2 linked regions of the Homo sapiens genome follow. The protein of the gene in region 1 interacts with the protein of each later gene in a pairwise test. Each region holds a gene or a part of one and is shown in the gene's direction. Other genes may lie near its edges.

The links.
Region 2: the proteins of PRR36 (region 1) and PELI2 interact in a two-hybrid assay, tested with the Homo sapiens proteins (one study listed by BioGRID).

Annotation. Positions count from the first base shown.
Region 1 is NC_000019.10:7,869,583-7,880,588, reverse strand, and holds the start of PRR36 (proline-rich protein 36), read left to right. Parts: upstream 1-6,198; 5' UTR 6,199-6,303; intron 6,304-6,892; 5' UTR 6,893-6,899; coding exon 6,900-7,170; intron 7,171-7,289; coding exon 7,290-7,392; intron 7,393-7,627; coding exon 7,628-7,740; intron 7,741-7,832; coding exon 7,833-10,874; intron 10,875-11,006.
Region 2 is NC_000014.9:56,288,110-56,298,718, forward strand, and holds part of PELI2 (E3 ubiquitin-protein ligase pellino homolog 2), read left to right. Parts: intron 1-327; coding exon 328-525; intron 526-2,158; coding exon 2,159-2,347; intron 2,348-4,609; coding exon of another isoform or gene 4,610-4,657; exon of another isoform or gene 4,658-5,246; intron 5,247-8,490; coding exon 8,491-9,057; 3' UTR 9,058-10,609. UniProt on the Homo sapiens protein: E3 ubiquitin ligase catalyzing the covalent attachment of ubiquitin moieties onto substrate proteins. Involved in the TLR and IL-1 signaling pathways via interaction with the complex containing IRAK kinases and TRAF6.

The DNA of each region.
Region 1 (11,006 bases):
TATAATATATTTATATATATTTTATATTTATATATAATATATTTATATATATTTTATATTTATATATATAATATATTTATATATATTTTATATTTATATATATAATATATTTATATATATATAATATATTATATATATATAATATATTATATATATATAAATATATTTATATATATTTTATATTTATAGATAATATATTTATATATATTTTATATTTATAGATAATATATTTATATATATTATATTTATAGATAATATATTTATATGTATATTTTATATTTATATATAATATATTTATATATTTTTTTATATTTATATATATAATATATTTATATATACATATATATATATGGAGTGGGGGTGGCCGAGGGGGAAGAGTGTGTGTCTGCGGGAGAAAGAGGAGAATCGCCCAAGCGGCCTCGGAAGCCCCAGGGAGTGGAGGCTCCCGCCGTGGAGCCATGTGGTGTATGTGTGGTAACACCACGTCTACGCCCCTCTCACTGATGCTGCCGCGGTGTCTGGAGCTGAGCGGGAAACAGCCGCGGTTAGTTTTTTATATGGACTTGGAGACACAGGGCACAGCTGGGCTGACGCCCTCTCCACCGTCCGGCTCCCTCACGTCAATTCCATCTGTCCCCATGTGCCTAGGATCCCTGTGACTCTCAACATGAAGATGGTGACACCTTCCTGATTTGACCTGATGGGGCTGAGTCCAGATGCCCCAGAGGACGAGGCTGGCATCAAGAAGGCAGCAGAGAACATCAAGGCCTTGATTGAGCATGAAATGAAGAACGGGATCCCTGCCAATCGAATCGTCCTGGGAGGCTTTTCACAGGGCGGGGCCCTGTCCCTCTACACGGCCCTCACCTGCCCCCACCCGCTGGCTGGTATCGTAGCATCGAGCTGCTGGCTGCCTCTGCACCGGGCCTTCCCCCAGGCAGCTAAAGGCAGTGGCAAGGGCCTGACCATCCTCCAGTGCCATGGGGAGCTGGACCCCATGGTGCCCGTACGGTTTGGGACCCTGACGGCTGTTGTCACACCTGCCAGGGTCCAGTTCAAGACATACTCGGGTGTCATGCACAGCTGCTGTCCTCAGGAGATGGCAGCTGTGAAGGAATTTCTTGGAGAAGTTGCTGCCTTCTGTCTAACTAGTCGCTGGCCCCAGTGCGGTGCCCCAGCTCATGGGGGACTCAGCAAGCAAGCGTGGCACCATCTTGGATCTGAGCCAGTCGAGCCCCTGTCCCCACCCTTCCTGGCCTGTCCTTTTCCCACAGGCCTCTGGGGCAGGTGGCAAGGCCTGGCCGGGCTTTCCTTCCTGGCCTCAGCCACCTGGCTCTGTCTGCAGCAGGGGCAGGCTGCTTTCTTATCCCATTTCCCTGGAGGCAGGCCTCCCTGGCAGCAGTATTGGAGGGGCTACAGGAAGCTAGAGAAAGGGGCCCAGCTGCTGACCCACTCACTCAGGACCTCACTCACTAGCCCCGCTTTGGGGCCCCTCCTGTGACCTCAGGGTTTGGCCCATGGGGCCCTTCCAGGCCCCTGCTCTAACTGATTCTGCCCAGATAATCGTGTGTCTCCTGCCTCCACTCAGCTACTTCTCAGTCATGAAGGTGGCCATGGCCCTGAGGTCCCCTTGCTGCTGTGGGCTCCCTGTCCCTGGGCAGGAGTGCTGGTGAGGAGGTGGAGCCTTTTGAGGGGGGCCTTCCCTCAGCTGTTTCCCCAAACTGGGGGGCTGGGCCCTGCCTCCCCATTACCCTCCTTCCCTGCAGGCCTGGAGCCTGTAGGGCTGGACTGAGGTTCAGGTCTCCCCCAAGCTGTCTCACTCTGACTTTGTCCCCACTCTAGAGCAGGGAAGGGGTGGGGGAGGAGTTGTGTCTCATCTTCTGTCTCCATGTGGTTTTTGGGTGCTTTTCTTGTTGTGTCCTGGATTCTGATAAAATTAAAGAAATTGCTTCCTCAAAAAAAAAAAAAAATATATATATATATATATATGCCCAGGTGCAGTGGCTCACGCCTGTAATCCCAGCACTTTGGGAGGCCGAGGTGGGTGGATCACCTGAAGTCAGGAGTTCGAGACCATCCTGACCAACATGGAGAAACCCCATCCCTACTAAAACTACAAAATTAGCCGGGCATGGTGGCGCATGCCTGTAATCCCAGCTACTCAGGAGGCTGAGGCAGGAGAATCGCTTGAACCTGGGAGGCAGAGGTTGCGGTGAGCTGATATCGCACCATTGCACTCCAGCCTGGGCAACAAGAGTGAAACTCCGCCTCAAAAATAAATTAATTAATTAAAAATTAGGGCCAAGATCACGCCATTGCACTCCAGCCTGGGTGACAGAGTGAGACTCTGTCTCAAAAAAAAAATATATATATATATGTATATATGTATATATATGTATATATGCGTATACACGTATATATGTATATATGCGTATACACGTATATATGTATATATGTATATATGCGTATACACGTATATATGTATATATGTATATATGCGTATATACGTATATATGTATATATGTATATATGCGTATATACGTATATATGTATATATGTATATATGCGTATATACGTATATATGTATATATGTATATATGCGTATATACGTATATATGTATATATGTATATATATGTATATATGTATATATATACACACACACATATACATATATATTTGTGATTTATTTATTTTTCTTTTAGAGACGGGGTCTCCTTATATTTCCCTAGCTGGCCTCAAACTCCCGGCCTCAAGGGGATCCTCCTGTCTTAGCCTCCCCAGTAGCTGGGACTACAGTCGCCTGGCCCTCACCTGAGAGTCACATGCCTAAGAGTGGCTACGCTGGGCAGTTCATTCAATGTCCCTCCCCCACCTGTTCCAAGCAACCACTGATGTGCTGTCTGTAACTACAGATTAGTCGCATTTTCTGGAATGTTCTATAAATGGAATCATACAGTGCGTGTTTTTTGTAGCTTCTTTTGTTCGGTGTGCTTTTGAGATTAGTCCCTGTTTTGAGAGTAGCATAGTCTGTTCCTTTCTGTTGCCAAGTTTCATTCCATTGTAGGGGACACTTTGATTCATGTTACTCATCCCTCTTGTTGATGGAGGTTTTGGGAGTGTTTTTATAAGAGGGCAGAGTCCAGATCCCAATTAATTACAGGGTGGGTTTTGTGTACCCTGGAGGAACCCTTGCATCATAGTCAGAAGGCAGGTGAAGCTGAGTGAGGTGGCTCCTGCCTGTAATCCCAGCAGTTTTGGAGGCTGAGGTGGGAGAATCACTTGAGCCCAGGAGTTCAAGACCAGCCTGGGTAACAGCGAGACTCTGTTTCTACAAAAAATTTAAAAATTAGCCTGATATGGTGGGGTAGGCTTTAGTCCCAGCTACTTGTTTTTTTGTTGTTGTTTTTGTTTTTGTTTGTTTTTTTGAGATGGAGTCTTGCTCTGTCGCCCAGGCTGGAATGCAATGGCGTGATCTCGGCTCACTGCACCCTCTGCCTCCCAGGTTCAAGCGATTCTCCTACCTCAGCCTCCCGAGTAGTTGGGATTACAGGTGCATGGCCACCATGCCCGGCTAATTTGTGTATTTTTAGTAGAGATGAGGTTTCACCATGTTGGCCAGGCTGGTCTCGAACTCCTGACCTCAAGTGATCTGGGTTTTGTTTTTTATTTTTATTTTTTATTTTTTATTATTTTGAGATGGAGTCTCTCTGTCACCCAGGCTGGAGTGCAGTGGCATGATCTCGGCTCACTGCAACTTCCGCCTCCTGGGTTCAAGCGATTCTCGCGCCTCAGCCTTCCAAGTAGCTGGGACTATAGGCACCACACCCAGCTAATTTTTTTGTATTTTTAGTAGAGACAGAGTTTCACCCTGTTGACTAGGCTGGTCTTGAACTCTTGTCTTCAAATTATCCACCCGCCTCGGCTGATAGTCCCAGCTACTTGGGAGGCTGAGGTGGGAGGATCACTGGAGCCTGGGAGGTCGAGGCTGCAGTGAGCTGTGAAGCTGTGATGATCGTGCCACTGCACTTCAGCCTGGGTGACAGAGTGAGATCCTGTCTCAAAAATAAATAAATAGGAGGGCAGGGATCTGTGTTGGTGGATGTGATTTGGAAGGAGGCACTGGGTGTGGGTGGGTAGACAGGGAACCAGGCTGGTGTCATGCCACAAGGGGTTCACACGGGTGATCATTGCTAGACTGAGGGAGAAGATAAGGCCTAGGATGATCCAATCTGGAGGTCAAAGCATGGCATTCAGCTCTGTCATTTTTCTCTGCCTTCCATTTCTGCAACCTCAAATGGGCGCAACGTCCCTACCCCCCAACCCCAGTTCACCCGATGCCAAGTTGCATTATCTGTTTCCTGTGCATGGAGGCCCCCTGATTTCCAGGAGGGAGTGAACTGTGCATATGAGCTTGCGATGGGGTTAGCAGTGGGGCACAGGGCGCTGGTTTCCTGGAATGGGGTAAAAAGTGGCTGTAAGTCTGGAGGGATGCGACATCCAGGCGGAAAGCTCATGGAGGCCATATGAGGAGGGGACTTGGCCGACAGAGGTGACAAGGCCAGACTCTTTTTTTGTGCATGTGTGACAGAGTCTTGCACTGTCGCCCAGGCTGGAATACAGTGGCACGATTTCGGCTCACTGCAAGCTCTGCCTCCTGGGTTCACGCCATTCTCAGCCATACTCAGGCCATACTCAGCCTCCCGAGTAGCTGGGACTACAGGCGCCCACCACCACGCCCGTTTAATTTTTTGTATTTTTAGTAGAGACAAGGTTTCACCGTGTTAGCCAGGATGGTCTCGATCTCCTGACTTTGTGATCCGCCCACCTCGGCCTCCCAAAGTACTGGGATTACAGGCCTGAGCCACCATGCCCGGCCCAGACTCTTCTTATAAGGAGAGGGAGCTGAGGAATGGCCATTTCCACCCTCAGGCTCCCACCCTCTTCATGCCACAGTCCTGGAGCACCGCTCTCCACCGAGGCCCCTGCCCTGGCTGAAGTCAGCAACAGGACACCTCCCACTCGCTCCGGCTGGGCTGGGACCCTTGTAAAGGATCTTCTGCGTCCTTCATGAACTTGTGTTTTTGTTTTTTTGTTTGTTTTTGTTTTTGAGACAGAGTCTCACTCTGTCGCCCAGGCTGAAGTGCAGTGGCGCAATCTCGGCTCACTGTAACCTCCGCCTCCCGGGTTCAAGCGATTCTCCTGCCTCAGCCTCTCGAGTAGCTGGGATTACAGGTGCTCGCCAGCATGCCCGGCTAATTTTTGTATTTTTTGGTAGAGACAGGGTTTCGCCATGTTGGCCAGACTGGTCTCGAACTCCTGAGCTCAAGTGATCCGCCCGCCTCAGCCTCCCAAAGCAGTGGGATTACAGGTGTGAGCCACCGCGCCCGGCCTTATGCACTTGTTTTGACACCTGCTAGGTCGACAGAACCTTGTCCCCCGGAAGCCCAGCTCTGCCAGGAAGTCTGGGCTGACTTGACATCCCGTTAGCTGGGAGGGTGTGGAGGGTGGGCGTGCTCTACCCTGCAGACGGCTGGGTCACCTCTCACAGAATATACTGTGTCTCCTGTCGCTCTCCCTCCTATTCCTTTCTTTATCTTCCCCAAAATCTGGGGTCTACCTTGCATCCTGAAATTCCCAGGGCAGCATTCTCTTAGCAGTCCCTCGACCCCCCAACCAGATAAGGGGTTTCCTGGCGTCTGGGGAACACCTTCGGGTGTGGGGCGGAGGGCGGCTGCCCCCCAGAGACCCTGGGCGGCCTAGCTTTCGCAGACGCGAAGGACTGGATAGTGCCAGGGCCACCGAGCGGCCGGATTGGTGTGTGGGCCAGAGGCGCGGTGGTCCCGCCTCCTGGTTGCCAGGGCCCAGCCTATCCGCGTCCAGGCGGTCCTTGGTGCCAGGTGGTTGTGGTGGGGGTCGGGGCAGGTGTATGTGTTGGGAAGGACAGTGGAGGACCCCAGGGATTTGCTCCCCCAGTCCCAACCGTTGACTATCTGGGTTCCTCAGGCGCAGCTGGGGAAACAGGCTTCCCCCGGACCGCAGAGAAGCCACCCTTCTCTCCAAAGCGCGCTTCTCCCCCATCCCCCTCGGCGCGCTTCCGCCGGCCGCGCTCCCGGGTCCGGATCGAGCGCGCGCCCCCGGCTCTCCCGCCCGCGGCCGAGGGGCGGGACCGGCTCGGCTCCCCCGGCGCCGCAGCCCGCAGCCCCCTCCCCTCGCCTCCTCGCCGCTGGCGGCCACCGCGTCGCTCCGGCCCGGGCCCCACCCCAGGCGACTCTGTGAGGAGCGGCCGGAGGCCGGAGGCGGAGGTGAGCGCGACGCGAGCAGGTGGAGAGGCTGGGCGCGGGCCAGGCCCGGCTGGGGGAGGGGTCGGGCCCGGGACGCGGCTCTTTGTCTCCCGGAGCCCGTTCGCGGGCAGCGGGGCCGCTCTGCCTCCCGGCAGGTGCAGGCATCCCTCGGGGAGGCCAGGGGAGGCCGATGGGGGCTGGCGGGGAGACCCGGGCGTGCGCTCCGGGTCTGGAGGGATGCGACATCCTGAGCCCGTGGCAGTCCCCCGCTCTCGAGGCTGGCGGTCTGAGTCCCTGAAGGGGCAAGGGGCAGGGGCGTGGAGATCGGTCCTGAATTGGAGCCGAGGCGGGGGAGGCGGTGGGCTGGGGCGGGCAGGGCCTCTTCGCTTTAGGGAAAAGCGGTGGGGGGTGGGACTTGGGGACAGCGAGGAGCAGTGGGGCTGGCGAGTGGGTGTAGGTGCGTGGGAGCCGAGCGGATGGAAGCCGAGGCCGAGGTTTGAGTGTCCATGGGTGGCGATGCTGCGAAAGGGCAGTGAGGTAGCAGGGTCCAGGTCTCTGGAGGCGGCGTAGCTGTCCAGAACCTGGGATGCGGACCGGTTTGTCTCTTCAGGTGCAAGATGGACAACAAGAGAGACAAGGCGAAGGCAGGGGCCGCCGCGCGGACGCCGGCTGCTCGCGCTCCTGGACTTCTGACCCCCAGGCCCCCAGGCTCTCCTCGACCCCCTCCCCCAGTAACTCCCGCAGCCCTCCGAGTTCTGGGAGCTGCGGGAGCAGTGGGGCGAAAGCCTCTGGCAGAGCGAGCGGGGGGCATCGGCGGGGCCACTATTCCCGAGTCTGCTCCCCGAGCGGGACCAACGCGGAGTGCTGGGACAAGTTCCCGAAACCCTGGTACCCCAGCCTCCTTCCTCAGCTCCGCCCCCATCTTCCCTCCCCCTTCCAATACCTGTCCAGTCTCACCTCCACTGCCACCTCTCCGGGGCACCTGTGACTCGGCCTTCTCCCCGCAGCCTCCAGGCCCCCAGCCTCTGGGAGAGGGGAGAGAGCTCCTCCTGCCAAGAACACCAGCCCAGGCCCTGTTTCTAGCCCAGGGCGTGCCAGCGGGACCACCAGGTAACCTGCTCCCTCTCCCCCAGTCTCCTAAGCCAGGGTTAGCGTCACAGAGTCTGGAACCTTTTATTTTACACGAGTTGGGGCGCGGGAGCACTTGCAGGTCACTGGGCACAAATTGGGTGAAAGCCATTATTGGTCCTCAGAGAGGGCACATGCCCATTTCACAGATGGGAAAATAGAGACTTGGGAAGCCAAACAAAGACCTAGGCCTGAGCGTGGCCCCTTCTGTCTCCAGGCCAGGCCCTCTTGGCCAGAAGGGACTCCGGATCTCAGCGGAGGAAACTGTGGCCAGAGGAAAAGCTACAGAGGCTCCCAAAAGGAGTGCCCTCAGCGCTGGGGCACGGAGAGGTACGTGACCTGGAGAAGAGTGGGGTTCCTGGGCAGCAAGGGGAGCCGCCTCAGAGGTATCGGTGACCCTTGGCCTTCTACTTTTTCTCCAGACACTTCCGGGCCTACCCCAGGAACCCCGTCCCCGGCCATGGCCCGTCGGTCCCGGGCTGCGGGCACCGAGGTGGGGCTCCCCCGGCCAGCTCCGAGTGCCCGGCCACGGCCCCCGACAGAGGGCCCCCGGAAATCAGTGAGCAGCGCCTCGGAGCACAGTACCACCGAGCCAAGCCCGGCTGCCAGGAGGCGGCCCAGCGCCGGTGGGGGTCTCCAGAGGCCGGCCTCGCGCTCCCTGAGCTCCAGCGCCACCCCTCTCTCCTCCCCAGCCCGTTCTGGGCCCTCAGCCCGCGGAACACCCAGGGCTCCTGCGCATCCCTCGCAGCCCAAGCCGAAAGGACTGCAGGCTCTGCGACCCCCTCAGGTCACACCCCCAAGGAAGGACGCAGCCCCAGCACTAGGACCGCTTTCTTCCTCTCCTTTGGCCACACCCTCTCCATCGGGTACCAAGGCAAGACCCGTACCGCCTCCCGACAATGCAGCCACTCCCCTGCCAGCCACGCTCCCTCCCTCTCCACCGGTAACGCCCCCTCCGCCAGCCGCTCTCCAAAGTCAGGCCCCGCCCACCCTGCCGGCCACGCCCCACTCGTCGAGCCTTACCTGTCAGTTGGCCACGCCCCTTCCTCTAGCCCCTCCTTCTCCCTCTGCTCCACCTTCTCTGCAGACCCTCCCCTCTCCACCAGCCACGCCCCCCTCGCAAGTTCCACCCACACAGCTGATTATGTCCTTTCCAGAAGCAGGCGTCTCTTCCCTGGCCACAGCCGCTTTTGTGGCTTCAGTCTCTCCATCAGTTTCATCCCCTCTGCAGAGTATGCCCCCCACCCAAGCTAATCCAGCGTTGCCCTCTCTTCCGACTCTCCTCTCTCCCTTGGCCACACCTCCTCTGTCAGCCATGTCTCCTCTACAAGGCCCTGTTTCTCCGGCAACATCTCTGGGGAATTCGGCTTTTCCCCTGGCCGCACTCCCTCAGCCAGGCCTTTCTGCTCTGACCACGCCCCCTCCGCAGGCCAGTCCTTCCCCGTCTCCGCCCTCTCTCCAGGCCACGCCCCACACTCTGGCCACTCTTCCTCTGCAGGACTCTCCTCTTCTGGCCACATTGCCTCTGCAGGCCTCTCCCTCTCCTTTGACCACAGTCTCTCTGCAGGATCCTCCTCTAGTTTCTCCCTCTCTTTTGGCCTCACCGCCTCTGCAGGCTCCGCCCCACCCACAGGCCCCACCTTCTATGACTACGCCCCCTATGCAGGCCCCGCCCTCTCTCCAGACCATTCCCCCAATACAGGTCCCACATTCTCTGACCTCACCGTCTCTGCAGGCACCTCCCTCTCCTCTGGCTTTGTCCTCTCTGCAGGCCACAACTTCTTTGGGCTCACCCACTCTGCAGGCCACACATTCTTTCCTGACAATGTCCCCTAGGCAAACCCAAGCTTCTTTGATCTCACCTTCTCGGCCGGCCTCTACTCCCCCTGATTCACCCCCTCTGCAGGCCCCTCTTTCCCTTCCTGCCTCACCCCCTCTGCAGACTTCTCTCTCTCCTGCTGTCTCACCCCTAAGCTCACCCCTGACCATACACCCTCTGCAGGCGCTATCTTCTCTGGCCTCCCACTCTCCTCAGGCACCTCTCTCTTCCCTGATCATGCCCCCTCTGGAGACCCAATCTTCCCTAGCCCCACCCTCTCTGCAGACACCTCCTGCTTCCCTGACCACACCCCCTCTGGAGAACCTACCTTCTCTAGCCCCGCCTCCTCTGCAGACAGCTTCTGCTCCCCTGACCACACCCCCTCTGGAGAACCTACCTTCTCTAGCCCCGCCTCCTCTGCAGACAGCTTCTGCTCCCCTGACCACACCCCATCTGGAGACTCCACCTTGTCCAGCCCCATGCCCTCTGCAAGCACCACCTTCGCCATTGACCACGCCCCCTCCGGAGACGCCCTCTTCCATAGCCACGCCTCCTCCACAGGCCCCACCTGCTCTGGCCTCACCCCCTTTGCAGGGCCTGCCCTCTCCCCCTCTGTCTCCTTTGGCCACGCCCCCTCCACAGGCCCCACCTGCCCTGGCCTTGCCTCCTCTGCAGGCCCCTCCCTCTCCCCCTGCCTCACCCCCTCTGTCTCCTTTGGCCACACCCTCTCCACAGGCCCCAAATGCTCTGGCAGTGCACCTTCTGCAGGCCCCTTTCTCTCCCCCTCCCTCACCCCCAGTGCAGGCCCCTTTCTCTCCCCCTGCCTCACCCCCAGTGTCTCCTTCGGCCACGCCCCCTTCACAGGCCCCACCCTCTCTAGCCGCACCTCCTCTGCAGGTCCCACCCTCTCCCCCTGCCTCTCCCCCAATGTCTCCTTCAGCCACGCCCCCTCCACAGGCCCCACCCCCTCTCGCTGCGCCTCCTCTGCAGGTCCCACCCTCTCCCCCTGCCTCTCCCCCAATGTCTCCTTCGGCCACGCCCCCTCCACGGGTCCCACCCCTTCTTGCCGCTCCTCCTCTGCAGGTCCCGCCCTCTCCCCCTGCCTCACTCCCAATGTCTCCTTTGGCTAAGCCCCCTCCACAGGCCCCACCTGCTCTGGCCACACCTCCTCTGCAGGCCCTTCCCTCTCCGCCTGCCTCATTCCCTGGGCAGGCCCCTTTCTCACCCTCTGCCTCACTCCCAATGTCTCCTTTGGCCACGCCTCCTCCACAGGCCCCACCTGTTCTGGCAGCGCCCCTTCTGCAGGTCCCTCCCTCTCCCCCTGCCTCACCCACCCTGCAGGCCCCACGCCGCCCCCCGACCCCGGGTCCGGATACCTCCGTCTCGGGCCCACGGCTGACCCTGGCGTTGGCCCCCGGCCCGCCGCCGCCGCCCTCGCGCAGCCCGTCCAGCACGCTGAGCGGCCCAGACCTGGCCGGCCACAGCAGCAGCGCCACGAGCACGCCAGAGGAGCTGCGTGGCTACGACAGCGGGCCCGAGGGCGGTGCCGCAGCCTCCCCGCCCCCCGACGCAGAGCTCGCCGCTTGCCACCCGGCTGCCTGGAGTCGAGGCCCCGCTCCGCCGCTGGCTTTCCGCGGAGCCCCAGGTAAGGGGCACCCCAGACCCGGCCTGGCTGTGGGCGGGGTCGGAGGCGAGGCTTCGCAGCTCAGGGGCGGGACAGCTGGGTCCGGGGCGGAGCTTAGACAAGGAGGCGGGACCTTGAGGCAGGGGCGGGGCT
Region 2 (10,609 bases), on another chromosome or scaffold:
TAAGTTCTAGAGAGTTGCTGTGCACCGTTCTGCCTGTAGTCAACAATGACTGCATTATGTGCTCAAATATTTCAGAGGATACATCTCATATTATATTCTTAGCACAATACAATAAAATTAAAAATAGGTATCTCTAATATTTGGTTACCCTAATATCTTCCCTAGTTAAATAGGAAAAGGAGCACGAATGAAAATCTTGCATTAAATTCTAACCCTCAGAACAAGGATAGTGAATGTTAAAGGAATCCTGAATGCTTTTTCCTTGTGAATAAAATACGGCACCCTGCTATTTTCCAAGTGAATCACGAGTACATTTGATTTACTTAGGTGGGCAGATCAACAGAAAGCCCTATCGACTTCGTTGTCACAGACACGATTTCTGGCAGCCAGAACACGGACGAAGCCCAGATCACACAGAGCACCATATCCAGGTTCGCCTGCAGGATCGTGTGCGACAGGAATGAACCTTACACAGCACGGATATTCGCCGCCGGATTTGACTCTTCCAAAAACATATTTCTTGGAGTAAGTACTGTCAAGAAGTACACGATTTCTAGAAAAATGCTTGTGATTATGATATGGAACATTTAATTGGAGCAAAAAAAAATTGGCTTTGTATGTTGCCTCTAGTGAGATTTTGAGATTTTAGTTTTCAGGTGGCCAGTTTGAGAAACTTGTTATTAAAAATCTGAACATTAATAAGCATTGCTTGTTATTCATTATATTTTTTATATTGTAATATTTACAGTAAGTACTTTTTTTAAAGTATGCCTATAACATTGTCCATAATGTATTTACGGCAACGAAGAGGTTTATTTCAGAGAGAAAAATAAATGGGCCAAATTTAGATCATTAGGGCTTAGAGGAAAATGTTAGTGATTCACTCATTCAAAAATGTTTTATGAGTGTTTGCTATGTTCCATACTGGGTGTTTTAGTTATGGGATTACAGAGAACAACACAGACTTGAATCCCTGCCCTTATAGGGTTTCCTTGTAAACCCCAGAAGTTTTAGTGAATATCCAGGTTTAACATAGTTTCCTTTTGAATTAGGATATTTTTGCAGGAAAAAACCCACTCAAAATGATCTAAAATCAGTGAAAATGTACTATTCCCACATAAGAAGTGCCGATGAAGGCCAGCTCCAGGGTTGGTGGTTCAGTGGTTCTGTGACATCCAGTGCACTGGGTTCTCTCTGTCTTGCCTTCTGCCTCCCGTGGTGCACCAGCCTCTTCCTGGGAGGTCTTCTTGTGGGTGAGAGCTGGCTCCTGCACTTCCAGATGTCCCCTGCCACATGACAACTTCCAGCCAGAGAAGAGGGTGGCAGAAGCACTGTTTCTTCCTTGTCTCTTCTTAGAGCACAGACACCTTTCTTGGAAGCCTCCAAGAAGATATCATGTGTCATCAGTCAGAGCCCAGTCATGTGCTGTGCCCACCTGTAAACCAGCTATTGGGAAGAGGGCTGGGAGTGTCATGTTGGGTTAATCAGGATTCCCCACCACCCCCCAACCCCCGCCCCAGCCACATGAACAGTAGCTGAGCTCTGTCACCAAGAAAGCTGAAGGGAAGAGCTGTGGCACAAGCACCCAAGAGTGTCTGTCCTGTCGTCATGTCAAGCTACATGCGCCATCTACCTTTGAGAATTTAAACGGTGATTATTATGAAAACATAATGACCCCGACTTGTTGGCTTAACATTTTTGGAATTTTCTAGCTTTAATAAAAGGTCTTTCTTTATGACTGTCCTTTCTCTTCTCTATCCTGACAGTGAGAACATAGAAAGTACTTTTAGATAACAGGATAGGAGCATGGCATAAGTATAACTGAAAAGAGAAAACACACCAGATTCCTGGAATCTCATGGGGTTGTGGGGAAGGTAAAAAGAATCTTAGAGGGAGAAGCCCAGGCCTCGATTTTTTGCAAGTTCTTGAGAACTATGATGTGTGTCCAGTGATAAGTCATTCATCCATTCAGCACTTCTTTTATATTGTCGAAAGGATGGCATATGTTATCCTTGTGATTATTAGCTTTAAATAGAAAATGAAAATTCATCACCTTCCTCCCCTCTGCCTCTATGCAATGTATTAAAGAAATTCCAGAATCCTTTCCATTTCAACATCATCTTAACCTACTTTTTCTGTTCTGCTGTGTTCTCTCCAGGAAAAGGCAGCAAAGTGGAAAAACCCCGACGGCCACATGGATGGGCTCACTACTAATGGCGTCCTGGTGATGCATCCACGAGGGGGCTTCACCGAGGAGTCCCAGCCCGGGGTCTGGCGCGAGATCTCTGTCTGTGGAGATGTGTACACCTTGCGAGAAACCAGGTCGGCCCAGCAACGAGGAAAGCTGGTGAGTGTGCTTCACTCTGCAAGTGTGAAGTACGAAACTACTCAAGCCTAACTCGAAGGCTATCATTTTCCTCCCCTGATGTTCAGAACCTTTGTGCAGGTCCAAGCGCCATGTACTGTAACTCAGGAGAAGCAGAATTCCACAAGCCCCTGAAATCAAGAGGGAAATGGCCTTATCTCCTTCAGGGGTTCAACTTTTCCCATAGTGGGAGTAAATTGTGTTTTGCTCCTTACCACCTGAAGAGCATTATCTTTTATTATATACCTCACCACAAAAATCTACTTAAATTCACTTTAAGGAGAAGAAACTTATTTTTAGTGTAAAACTTTATTGATTTGGAAAACGTTTGAGCAGTCCAAAAACAATTAGTAAAAATTATGCATTAAGGAATTATTTACTAGACTTTCTGGAAGTAAAAAATAAGTCAGCTGGTTTTCCCTTTGAATTCCTATATATTAAGGCAGAATTCTCTATACTGTCCACCAAAATCATAGTTACAACTGTTTACTTGAAATGATTTATATACTGCATTGACCTGGCATGTTAATATTTTCCTATAAATATCACCACTTATCCCCATGCCCTAAAGCAGTTTTTTTAAACCCATTCTTTCTTGGAGAATAATTATAATACCTTAAATATAGAACTTTGGGTTTCTGATCTTGCCATAGCCATGTAGCACAGCCACTGATTTTTAGTAAGCTGTCCATTCCTGTACTTTTCTTAATTTGCTAGGTAGAAGCTAGAACGAGAGAGAACAAATGTCTTTTTCTAGAAGCTAGAAAAGAAGGAGTTCTTCAAAACTCCCACAGAATAAAATGTATACAGAATAGAGGATTTGACCTAGCACTTGTCAGAGAGAAAGATCATCACCAAAAATGTCTAAGATGGAAAAAGAAGTTGGGGGCTGTTTCACTGACCTCATTTGCTGTTCTCTACTGGATGTTTGTGTTTAGGGAATGGTTATTTTTATTTCTATTTTACACCATTTTTCAGCTTCAGGCACAGCGTATGCGTCTTACAGTGCACCATGGCTGAATAAATATGAGAAGCATTTTCTAAAAAAAAAGCAAATTCAATAAATTTTGTATGAATGTTTTCAAGAAATTGTAAACAAAGGAGGAAATGTGAAAGCAGTTTTTCTAAATAATCTTTTGTTTCTGATCACTGGATAGTTTTATACAAAACTGACCTAGATTGGCCAAACTGGTTATTCATCATTATAACAGCAAGAGTAAGAAGTCAGTAAATGGTTGCTGGGTGCAGACTCTGCGTTAACATTTCCGACATGAGCTCACTTCATCTGCACAGCAGCCCTCTTAGGGAAGTAGAGTCATCCCCATTTCATGGATGAGGAAGATGTGGCGTGAAGTTAAAGATTGCCCAGTGTCACAGAGTTAGCAGGTGGCAGCCAGTGGGATTCAAACTCAGGTCTCCCTGATGGAGAGCCTGGACACCTAATACTACTCAGTACCATGTTGTGGGGAGCCAGGGATGGTTTACACCTGAGCATTTGCCTCCCTGGGTGAGTATAAAGCATACGCTGGAGTCCGTGGGGAGCGCCTTTGTCCAGGAGGGCATATCACAGGATGAGTTTCTCGTCCACTCTGGTTATTGTGTAATGACCCTTCTCAGGCTGCTATGTGTGCTGGAGAATTTTACAGTGCGACTGAAAAGAACGAACTCCAAAAATGGCTTGTATTAATGAGTTGTATTAAATATACAGGCTATTTTTGAAGTTAGTCCCTATAAGCGACACTGAGAACTATGTAAAATTGTGCTGTCCTATTTGATAGCATCCGATTAACCTGGCCAGTTACAAAGGCTTCTATCAGCCTGATCTTGGGCTTATGGGACACTGAACGGATACATTCTTCCTGCAATCTCCTCTTGTTAACCTCTGGAGAACAGTTTTTGTCTGTCTTCGAGGAAAGCTTACTGACTCTTTGAACTTCTGTTTCAATTCATGACTCATTGGTCCTGTACATGTTGCTGGTAGCATTTGATATAAATTATGTTTATCTGGAGGTTAGATTTTGGAGACAGTCTCTGGCAGTACTTGTCATTTGCAGTCTAATACAGAAATATGAGAAATAAAGTGAGCTGCTAAAAGTCTAAAATATTTGTTAAAACAATAGTAGTCACATTGTGGAGCTAGTGCTGGTGGAAGATTATGTATTAATATCATACTGAGCATTTGATATGAATCAATATACTAATGTATGTGTAACAAGAAATCACCGTTGTTTTTCATTATTACAGCAAATGATGGAACCTCAGAACTGTGTACTAATCAACAAAATTAATTAAATATGGGGGAAATGTCTTTTCAGGCCTTTAACTCCCTGAATAAATAGGTGAATGGAGTTTGAATTGTGCCCTCCTTTTTTAGCTAGTTAATGATAACATATGGTAACATTTATAATATTACTCCAGGAGGGCCTTGAGTATTTAATTAAATTATATATGAAGTATTTTATTAAACTAAACTGGCTTTGTATAAAATTAAGTAAATTCAGTTAAGTTGATTGCATACCTAATTTTAGGTGAAATTATAAAAATAACCATAGCGTAGCTATGGTCAGGCTCTAGCAGGTGCATTACATTAATTGTCTTTCCAGTGTTGCTTAAAATAACCCGTGAAGTCAGTGTTGTTATTGTGTCCGTCTACAGATGAGGAAACCTGGGCTTTAAAAGGTTAAGTCACTTGCTAATAAGAAGTGGTGGATGGGGGGTTGAATTCACTACCCTGTGCTTAGATAGTTGCTATGTAGGGGCCATTAGTTGCCATGGTAGAGGCCAAATGTCTCTTGCTTCCACAATACTGTCAATTCCTGTGCCTGCTCATAGCTTTTCTTTTGTGGTAGAATTTAAAAAATAAAATCTGAATTCATGCCTACTAATGATTGCTAAATCAGGCCACCAGGTTCAAGTCCTGGTTTCACCACTTAGTTCTGTGGTATTGAATTGACGACGTAACCTCTCTGTGCCTGGCTTCCACATCTCCCAAACTGGAATAATATTAATACATGTCTAATAGGACTGTTGTGAGAACTAAATTCAGTAGCTGGAAAGGATTGGAACAGTGCTGGACACAGTAATGCCCCATGACTGGCTGGTTGTTATTACTAAGCAGGGGTTGCAAACTGGGGATGTGGCAGAAAACACCAAGTCCACGCTCTGCCCTCTAATTGCATGGTCTGGAGGAGGTCACAGACTAGGCAGCAGATCAGCAGATACTGTGTGATGAGCACAGTCATGAGAAGGTACCGAAGGTACTTTCCCTCCACAGGACACCTACCCCAGATGTGGGAGTCAAGGGTATGTGGAAAATAAAAAACCATACACCCCAGATTTATAATAAGACTTTGTTGTTTACCAAGAACTGCCCTGCAGGAGGAAAGGGGGGTTGTTCCACAGCCAGAGGCTAGGCCACCACCATACCTCAGCTTCTTACCACATCAGGGTGATCCTTTAGACACAGTTTTATCCTGCAATGAGGCCTCCTCTGAGAATTGCCTGTGGTCAGCAAGGTCAGGAGCCTCACGTCACCAGTTAGAGGAGAGGAGACCATGGGATGCTCGGTATGGTGGTGGGGCGGGGAAGGAGCATCAGCAAACTTCAGGCTGTCTGAAAGGAGTCACAGTGTATGTCCTGTACAGTATTAAGATTTATCATTTGTTGGGACCTTAACTTTTTCTAAAAACTAATACTTGGGAAGGGCTGATTTCTTCATGACAAGGAAAATGTCCAGGGCAAAGTGACATCCAGGTGAGACCTGGATGACAAGTAGGAGTTTGCCAACCAGGGCTCAGCTGGAGCAGGGTGTACTGGAGTGGAGTATTCTAGGCAGAGGTTGCTCTTGCACCTGCCTGTGGGCAGTCCGAGGTAGTGCGCTCATGGACTCCAGCTCCTTGCAGCTCATCGCAGGACAGTCCTGGTTTCCAGTTAGGAAGGGAAGAGCTACAGCAGGAGAAGTCGAGTGACTGCATTGGGAGTGACCTTTTAAGTGTGTTAAGAAGCTTGGGCTGTACCCCAAGGGCAGCAGAAAGCCGCCAAAGTCCTTTGAACCAAAGATTGACAAAATTTCTGGTGCTTCCCATACCTCTCTCTTTCCCTTACATGGTTCTTTTCCTCCACCCCAGCTCCTGGCTCTGTCCTCAGTCCTCTCTGCCCTCCCTGGGACCCTGCCTGGGCAGTGGCATCCATTCCCACAGCTTCACCTAGGTGCGGATAACATCCCAGATATGTTTCTTCGAGCCTGATCTGTCTCCAACGCTGCATCACACGTGCCTTGTATGCATTACCACCACCGATACTCTGCACACCCTCACATTCAGCACACCCAAAACTGAACTGGCCTGGCTCTTGCTGTTGAACTTATTTAGTTCTCACAACAATCCTATAAGACATGTATTGGCATTATTCCAGCTTAATGGATGTGGAAGCCAGGCCCAGAGAGGTTAAGTCGTTGACTCAAGACCACAGAGCTACTAAGTGGTGAAATCAGGATTTACTCCCTCATCTGCCATTTCTCCTGTGTTTCTGTCTGTGGAAAGCACTGTTCTACCCAGACAACCAGGCACGTAAGAGGCTCTTGCTCAGATCAAGAGCTGAGTGCCATCGAGTCTAATTTCTTTCTCTCTAGTCCCTGTGCCTCTGTCTCTTGCCACTGAGACTGTCTTTGTTGAGGTGTACTCACCCTCTCTACCCAGAGAGAGCACCAGTTGCCTCCTTCACAGCTCATCTTTACCCCTCCAACCCACCCTCCAAAGTTCTAGAAGTGACCTTTTTGAAAGGTCAATCAGTTCTTTTATAGTTACCTAAACCCCCTACCAACTCCCTCTGGGCATGGATGCCAGCCTCCCTCTCCCGCCTGGGTCTCTCGTCCCCCCCCACCCAGTGCCCTGAACTGCGTCCATCCTTGTTCAGCCTGGCTGCACAGCCTCATCAAACTCCCTGTTGCTCCCTTGGTGCATATGCCATTTGGCCTCTCCTCCTTCTCCCTGCTGTGCCTTCCTGCTATCCTCCCTACTGAGGCCTGACATCTTTCTCAAATCTCTGTTAAAGAAAAACCTTTTAGAAACCATTTCTGACCGTCTGTCATCATCAGAGTAATAGTAGCAGGTATTTACAGAGTGTTGACTGCGTACCAGACAGTGTTCTCTAAGAACTCTTTGCATTTACTTATCTAACACAACCACCTTTTCTAAAGTTTAAACAAGGGGAAACTGAGGCACGAGGAGTTTAAGTAATCTGCACAGCGTCATACAGCTAATAAGTGGGAGAGCCAGGGTTCAAACCCAGAGTCCACACTCCTGGCTGCTATAAATTTGTGGCCTTGAACAGTGCTTTACTGGCCTTCATGCACTCTGAGCTCTGGGCATGTCTGCCTTCCACTACTGAAGAGCAAGTCTCAGCAGGATGGGGAAGAGGTTTTATTGGCCTTTGGTACCTCCAAGGCTTAGCATGCATCTGGCATGTGGAGGCAGCGGTCACGTTCTTGCTGACCACGCCTAGCTGCTGCTTGTCAGCTGTTAATCAGTCTTATAAGCACTTAGTGCATAGCACAGGCCTCCTTCTAAAAATGAAGGCTCATGTTGAACTGTTTAGCTTCAAACCTTAAAAATGAATGATGAAAGATAGATTCAAGGTGGAGGAAGCTAAGGGTCACCAGGAGTGCTTTGGACCCTCCAGTAATGACTGCAGGCCCCCCGCAAGATCTTCTGGATTGGCTGTCATCAAGATGAGGATGAGTCTCCACTGGATGGACTGGTAGGACATCTCTCATCCTATGGGATCAGTGAGTCATTGTGTTACTGACTTAAGGAGTTAAAAAGAAAATCTTAGGAGATTTGTGAAGTTCATTAAAATAACCACTACAGTAATTGAACATGTAAAGCTAGGTATACATACTGTGCTCAGGGCTTTGTACATACGGCATATATGTATCATATCCAGTGATCAGATGAGGAAGATGAGGCTCGGGGAGGATAGGTTACTCCCCCAGTTCTGTTTTTGTGGGATAAATTGCTTCCCTGTGTTATCTTCAAATATTTTTTTGCTTGTTCTGAGAGGAAAGAATCTTGGAGTGATTTGCTTGATTTTGCTTTTAAAAGGCATGTGTCTCAAACTTGTTGTAGGTGGAAAGTGAGACCAACGTCCTGCAGGACGGCTCCCTCATTGACCTGTGTGGGGCCACTCTCCTCTGGAGAACAGCAGATGGGCTTTTTCATACTCCAACTCAGAAGCACATAGAAGCCCTCCGGCAGGAGATTAACGCCGCCCGGCCTCAGTGTCCTGTGGGGCTCAACACCCTGGCCTTCCCCAGCATCAACAGGAAAGAGGTGGTGGAGGAGAAGCAGCCCTGGGCATATCTCAGTTGTGGCCACGTGCACGGGTACCACAACTGGGGCCATCGGAGTGACACGGAGGCCAACGAGAGGGAGTGTCCCATGTGCAGGACTGTGGGCCCCTATGTGCCTCTCTGGCTTGGCTGTGAGGCAGGATTTTATGTAGACGCAGGACCGCCAACTCATGCTTTCACTCCCTGTGGACACGTGTGCTCGGAGAAGTCTGCAAAATACTGGTCTCAGATCCCGTTGCCTCATGGAACTCATGCATTTCACGCTGCTTGCCCTTTCTGTGCTACACAGCTGGTTGGGGAGCAAAACTGCATCAAATTAATTTTCCAAGGTCCAATTGACTGACGCCCTTGACAGCCATCTACGACTTTATTAACAGGTTACTGTGAAGATTTTGCCACTAACTCTAGATTTTACCTTTTTGTAATGCTGTTTATCAGAGGAGGGTGACAGGGGCTGGAAATAAAGAGAGGGGACATGGTGATGAAACATGGCAGGAGTGTAACAGATACCAGTGGTGTGTTGCATGCTCAAAACAGCAGCGTCGTCATTGAAGTCTGCTTGATTAAACCATAATATCTTTGTAATAATTGGATTTAAAATGCTATGCTTCTATTTTTAACCTTGGGTTTTTAACCAAGTTTTTTTTTTTTTGTAATCTTGGACAAGACTTTAAATCATATTTTACAGATGTAGAAGAAATTTATTCAAAAGTGTGGGCTCATGAAGTTCACTTCAGTGCAGTGTGGTGTAGGTGTTACGCGAAGGGCGCACAGTGTCTAGAAATACTTGATCGTGGCTCAAACCTGACCAGACAGCAGAGGGGCGGCTCTGTACAGTGTGACTGGTGGACAGATGGCCTTAGGCACAGGTGGTTTTGAAATCTGGGGCTTTTTCTGATTTATTTTTCTGACTTGTTGGGGGAGAGAATATTCATAACTTGTGGGCTTTTTTTTTTTTTAACTTCAGTGGAATTTACTTTAGATATTCATTCATCAAATACATGGGACTTCACAAACAATTTTCCATAACTTTTTAGCCTGTCTTTTGTTATTTCTGCCTAATATGATTTGCCCCGATACTCATCTTGCACGGCCAGAACTGTTTGGTTGATTAAAATACATCAGCTCTTAAAAACTCATTAACTGAGGGTAATTACAGTAGTAGACATGGTCTGGGTACTATACTACCATGTTTATTTGCTGACTGAATTAAGATTTAAGAATGATTAAAAATAAGCTTTTACTTTTTAAAACCACTTGAGGTTTCATAAAGCTTGGGGTTTTTTTTTTTCCTTTGTTAAGAAAGCCAACCAATCACAATGATATAGTCATTGTTGTGCACTCCCTTTTCACCATCTGTCACCTTCCCTTGCAGCTTAAGGAGCCCAGTAAGTTTTGAAAATGTTTGCGAATCAAACTAAATTTAAGTGGGATGATTAGATATACACAACACCAAGTGGTACATCTGCAGAGATAATTCAAAATTCCTGCTTTTGAGAGAGCAAATGAGTGTTGCTGAGGAATAATTAAATGAGAATTTCATAGGAGCTCCACCATTCCTGTTACTTTCATTTCATTTTGATTAATAATTCTTGGATGCTTGGCATCGATCGTATCACTGCTCCTAGAAGGTAAAGATCCTTTAGGACATGAGACTGGTAGAAGCTGGCTGAGATAAAATAAGTATTTATTTAAACTAATGTTCTCTTAATTTGACCATTGCAGATTTGGGTGACTTTTTTTTAACCTTTGTACATATACGTAATTTATATGATTCTAATGTACTATATCCATACTTGAATTGGTTTTTTCGTATTTTGCCTACTGGCAAATATTTTGCCTATTTTCAGTCGTTCTAACCTATTTGAATACGCTTTTCCTTAAAGTGATACGAT